Regions from separate parts of the Homo sapiens genome. Here region 2 is linked to region 1. Evidence: fine-mapped QTL for protein levels in blood plasma. A gene starts in region 1. The other region holds a variant in brackets. All regions are shown on one strand. Distances are between the middles of the regions.

Region 1 (2,900 bases):
GGCCTGGCAGGGCAGTGGGGAGCAGCGTGGAATGGTCCAGAGTTCCTGGAGGTGGTCAGGGACAAGACAGCTGGGCCTCTCTGCTGTCATCCCTAGGAGCAGTCAGCAATTACACAGACACAGCTGCTGTGTGATTCAAAGACACATATGCACGTAGACTCAAATACAGAGTTGCTTGAATGTGTTCACAAATATACACACCCGGCCGGGCGCGGTGGCTCACGTTTGTAATCCCAGCCCTTTTGGAGGCCAAGGCGGGTGGATCACAAGGTCAAGAGATCGAGACCATCCTGGCCAAAATAGTGGTGCGCACCTGTAATCCCAGCTACTCTGGAGGCTGAGGCAGGAGAATCGCTTGAACTCAGGAGGCGGAGGTTGCAGTGAGCCGAGATTGAGCCACTGCACTCCAGAGCCAGACTCTGTCTCAAAAAAAAAAAAAAGACAAAAACCCCCCACAAATATACACACCCATGCACCACCACCCCTACCCATACACCACACGCACACTTAAATTCAGAGGGCAAATCCCGGTTCCTCCCTTCATAGCTATGTGTCCCCAAGTTACTTAATCTCTTTGTATCTTAATTTCCTTATTTCCGATCTGTAAAAATGAGAATAATGGTATTCACCTCAATGAGTTGTTGTGAAGATTAAATGAGATAAAATGGTAAAGAGCTTACAACAGTGGCAACACATGCAGAGAGACGCACATGTTTTCATACTCATTTCCCAAGCCCTGCCCAGTACTGCCACTGGCACTGGTGGTGAGCCTGGCAGCAGTACAAGGTTGGAGTCCCTTCATCCCTTTGAGCCTTGGTTTTCTCATCTGTGAAATGGGAATAATAATATCTAGCCGGCGGGGCTGTTTGGAGGAACTAAAGAGGCCCAGCATGGAAAGCTCCTAACCTAACTCTGGCCCACAAAAGTCTCCCTACGTTTTAGCTGTCACTGTCCCTGTGAGGAAGAACAGATCCAAGAACAGGTGCAGGGATGGGCTGCACCACAGCAAAATCTGGACAGGCCCGACCCCCATCTCCTCCCAGGCTGGAGCGGGGCCCTGTAAGGACAGAGCCCAAGGCCACTAGGTGTCAGGCCTGTTGGAGCCAAGTCCGGCCAGCAGTCTGGGGTGGGGCTGGGGGCAGGGCTGGTCGGATGGCCGTGGGTGGAAGGAAAAGAGGAAAACCAGCTCAGTGGAAATTGTCCTGCGGTTGGCTCAGGCGCCCACGACACTGTATTTATAGAGAGCTCCTTGCAGCTCTTAATTCCTCGCAGTCGAGTTAACCCTTTCTGGGCTGTGGTGCCAGCATGGTGTGGAGGAAGAACCCAAGACTGGGGTTGGACAGCAGGATTCCAGCCCTGTTCTGCCGCCAGTCGATGACCAGTCAGTCACCTATCCCCTCTCGCAGAAAGGAAGATTCGGCTCTTGGAAGTGTGGGAACGGGGTGGGGGATGGGCAGCGCCCTGCTCCGGGAGCCGAGGGTTTTCCCCGCCAGGGTCAGGCCTGGGGGCGGGGCGGGGCGGGGGCGGGGGCCAGGCCGTGTGCTCTGCCCAGCGGGCTGGCTCAGGCCTCGGTCAGCAGCCGCCACCGCGGGGCCAATCCGGCCTCAGGGACGCACCGGAGCCGCCTTTCCGGGCCTCAGGCGGATTCTCCGGCGCGGCCCGCCCCGCCCCTCGGACTCCCCGGGCCGCCCCCGGCCCCCATTCGGGCCGGGCCTCGCTGCGGCGGCGACTGAGCCAGGCTGGGCCGCGTCCCTGAGTCCCAGAGTCGGCGCGGCGCGGTGAGTGCTGGCGTGGCGCGGGCGGCGCGGGGTGGGGCGGCCTTTGTCTGCTGCGGGCCGGGCCTGGATCCCGCGGAGGTCCGCACGTTCCCGCTCAGGGCTGCAGGAGCTGAGCAGGGCGCCTTCCCTCCGGGCTCCTGCTCCCCTGCCCTCCCCCAGGTCCGGGCGGCCCCCCTCGCACAGGAGTCCCGGGAACCGCGGGCGCCCCTCCTGCCCTGGGCTGTGGGGCCCGCGGAGAGCTGGGGGCTCCCGGATCCTACCCCGCCCCCCTTTCCTCGGGTTGAGAGGGGCCCGGGCGCCGTCGGACCTGCAGACCCCGGAAGCTGCGGACCGGGCCGGGTGGGTGAATGCGCTTTTGCAGGCCCCGGGTCTGGAGCGGGCATGGGGGCAGATCTGTCCCGTGTTGAAGCTTAACGAAGCCACCGGCCGGCGCTGGGAGGTTAGCGGGGTCTCGGGTCCTGCAGAGGAAAACGCCCAGCTCCGGGAGGGGAGCGGCGGGGAGGGAAGGCGAGTGGTTAGGCGTGTCCACTCTGCAGGGCCCAGCAGGGCGAAGGTGTGGGCGACTGGTGCACTTCCACAGGCAGCCGTGGGCAGCATGAGGGGTCAGATTCCGGGAAGGACAGGTAGAGACGGCTGGCAGGGGCCACGGGGTGAATAGGTGTTGGGGGTGGGGAGGGAATTGGGATGGGCAGTTTGGGCTTGGGAAGCCTCAGGGAGGTGGGGGGTGAGGTGGGATGGAGAGGAGATGCGGGCGACGGTGGAGGGAGGTGGGGACCCCGAGTGGGGGCACACTAGAAGGGAGGGGATTGAATTCCAGCGCCCAGGGCCCTCCCTGCGACCGTTTAGCTAGCGAATTGGCAGGTTTGGCAGCCTAAGGCAGGGGATTTATTTCTAAGCCAAACCTGCTCTAATGAGAAAAGCGTGATAGATGACTCAGATATGGGATCTATCACTGAGGGAAAACATTAAGCAAATAGTAAAGCAAAAAAGATTTGTGTGTGTGTGTGTGTGTGTGTGTGTGTGTGTGTGTGTGTGGCGGGTGGGGGGGTGTTAGTTGTCTTAATTTAGAAAAACGATTTACCTTCAAATTGGATGTGGATAATTGTAAATGAGTCTGATCTC
Region 2 (2,854 bases), 21 kb after region 1:
TTCAAGGCTCTGGAAGCCTCTGGGAAGAATGGAGCCACATCTGGGTCAGCAGAGGGGTGGGCGAAGGAAAGGAGTCCTGATGGCAGGATTCACCAGGGCTGGAGCTGGTGAGAGTCACCTGCCCCAGGCCTGGCCCTGGGATTGGTCTGGTCAGGCCAAGACCCACCTGCTGTGATTGTTCTCAGAAGATTGGGGAGACTCCATATCTGAGAGTCCTCAGACTTAATCTGCTTTTGCATCTAAGAAGAAAATAGGAAGATGGAACAGGGTCTGGGAATTGATGGGGGAAGAGTTTGGGGGACTCGGGTGGTAGCCTAGAGAGTCCCATTTCTCCTCACCACCCTGCCCCTCTGACCCCGCCCCCAGGAGCCGTGGAGGTCCAGGTCCCTGAGGACCCGGTGGTGGCCCTAGTGGGCACCGATGCCACCCTGCGCTGCTCCTTCTCCCCCGAGCCTGGCTTCAGCCTGGCACAGCTCAACCTCATCTGGCAGCTGACAGACACCAAACAGCTGGTGCACAGTTTCACCGAAGGCCGGGACCAGGGCAGCGCCTATGCCAACCGCACGGCCCTCTTCCCGGACCTGCTGGCACAAGGCAATGCATCCCTGAGGCTGCAGCGCGTGCGTGTGGCGGACGAGGGCAGCTTCACCTGCTTCGTGAGCATCCGGGATTTCGGCAGCGCTGCCGTCAGCCTGCAGGTGGCC[G/A]GTGAGCACCAGGAGGGCGACGCCTTCCCCTTGGTTCACCCTCCATTCCCTCTGCAGCCCACCCTCTGCTGCACCACTGCTCCCAGAACCCCAGTGCTGATTCCTGTACTCAGCCCCATGCATCCTTTTCCTCCCCTGCCATTGCCCTGCCCTTGACCCCTGCCCTCTGTCACCTCCAGCTCCCTACTCGAAGCCCAGCATGACCCTGGAGCCCAACAAGGACCTGCGGCCAGGGGACACGGTGACCATCACGTGCTCCAGCTACCGGGGCTACCCTGAGGCTGAGGTGTTCTGGCAGGATGGGCAGGGTGTGCCCCTGACTGGCAACGTGACCACGTCGCAGATGGCCAACGAGCAGGGCTTGTTTGATGTGCACAGCGTCCTGCGGGTGGTGCTGGGTGCGAATGGCACCTACAGCTGCCTGGTGCGCAACCCCGTGCTGCAGCAGGATGCGCACGGCTCTGTCACCATCACAGGTAAGGGCAGATGAACAGCTGGGGAAGGACGGAGCGAGTAACTCCCTCTTTACTGGACCCTAACGTGGAATTTCCATAGGTTTGGGTGGCCAGAAGACTTTCAAAATCCCTTTCATAGACTTCAGGTGCTCACACTCTTCCCCACAAGTCCTTAAGGGACTCGAGCTGATAAGAACCATTTATAATGTTTGCCTTCCTAAGAGTGCTTTTCGTGGCACTTATGCTTCTTATGCAGAGGACAAGGTACCTGCCCGAAATTTGGAGGCATGGGCAGGAATTCTGGGGCAGCCACAAGGTGTGGCCCAGGGGACTTGGTGTGGGTGTGCTTTCCAGCAGGAACTCCTCTGAGTGGTAGGAAGGTATTCTGGGTCAGTGGGCGCCATCTGATTCTGAAGCCTGAGTGACAGCTGGCCCTCCCTAGTTAGTCCCCAACACCTGAGTCAACGTCAGCTCTTCTTCCTGCAGACTTGCGCTCCACCCAGGCAGCCGTTGGATGGGCAGGGGCTGTCTCTGCTGCCCCCGTGTGGTCAAACACCAGATAGAGGCCACCCCTTTAGTGATTGTTAGTCTCTGGTTTCCAGGTTCTAGCCTCGTGGGCACCTCTTGTGCCTGAGGGTGTGAAGAGGGTTGAGGTCAAGAGCCGCAGTCTCCATCTGTGTTTGGCCCTGAGAGGCCTCTGGTCAGTCACTTCCTGGGCCGACGTGCTCAGTCTGGCTCTTCAGTATCTCTCCCTGGCCAACTGAGCTTTCCCAGGGACCTCGCCCTGGTGCACAGTGAGGTCAGGACAGCAGGTTTTGTCTGTCTGGTTCTCCTCTTGTCTTCTGATGACTTCCATCTGCCCCTCAGCCCATCCAAGTTCTGATCTCACCCCAAGTTTCCAGGTCTGCATGCACCTCAGGACTCACTTATTCCTGTCCTCTCCCTCTTGAGACCTATGTGGTCCCCACTTCTGACAAGCTCGGAGCCAGGGCCCGTCACATCGTCTGCTTGGAGTTCAGGCTCACTCCTCCTTCTCTCTTACGTGTTTCCTTCTGGCAAGGTTGTGCTCCTTCTGCCCACCCCTTCCCCAAGATGGAAAACACTCCCTTCCTGTGCTCTCCAGGAGAGAGTAGCTGCCCTGAGCTCTTGAATGTTCTGAGACATGTCCTTGACCTTTTAGAGAACAGCATATGGTTTGGTGGTGAAAATGCTGTTCACAGGCGAAAAGAAGAAATAGAAGATAGAGTGATCTTGGCAGAGGATATGAAGCTTTCAGAGGAGGGAGGGTGGTAGTGAGGACACCTCCAGGGGCAAATGGGAGCTGAGAAGGCCTTGAAGGATAAGGGGTCTTTGTGGTCATTTGCACCCTGGGCTGAGCTGGATATTTGCGATGCTGTGCAGAAAGGACTTATGAGTATAAATGTGATTGCAAAGAGAATGTTTATCTCACCTAAGAGAAAATTCTCTATTTTAAACTTGAGTAGCTAACATTTAAAGTGATTTCAAAAAAATTTAGGGCTGGGCATGGTGGCTCACACCTGTAATCCCAGCACTTTGGGAGGCCAAGGCGGGTGGATCACTTGAGGTCAGGAGTTCGAGACCAGCCTGATCAGCATGGTGAAACCCTGTCTCTACTGAAAACACAAAAATTAGCTGGGCGTGGTGGCATGCACCTGTGGTCCCAGCTACTTGGGA

Alleles and levels. Alleles are on the strand shown, and positions count from the first base shown. The strength of an association depends on the size of the effect and on how common the allele is.
For the plasma level of the protein whose gene starts at base 1,701 in region 1, G is the low allele of the variant in region 2 and A is the other (moderate association).

Evidence for each region. PIP is the posterior inclusion probability: the model's chance that the variant is causal. Protein levels are from antibody-based Olink assays in UK Biobank. Linkage for the fine-mapping came from a reference panel and not from the study's own genotypes, which makes the PIPs less certain.
Region 2: its variant is fine-mapped to the plasma level of the CD276 protein (UK Biobank, PIP above 0.99). The variant lies in the coding sequence of CD276. If it changes the protein, the assay may bind it differently, which can mimic a change of level.

The regions. Positions count from the first base shown.
Region 1 is chr15:73,682,683-73,685,582 of GRCh38, forward strand. CD276 (CD276 molecule) reads left to right here and starts at 1,701. Exons shown (of 10, transcript NM_001024736.2): 1 at 1,701-1,778. RefSeq lists enhancers at 590-1,098, 2,116-2,622 and silencers at 1,482-1,531, 1,652-1,781, 1,792-1,921, 2,082-2,131.
Region 2 is chr15:73,703,293-73,706,146 of GRCh38, forward strand. It overlaps CD276 (CD276 molecule), which reads left to right. Exons shown (of 10, transcript NM_001024736.2): 5 at 367-705; 6 at 884-1,180. Among named protein-coding and RNA genes, the nearest start is that of CD276, 20 kb to the left of the region's middle. The variant G/A (reference allele first, on the strand shown) is at 705.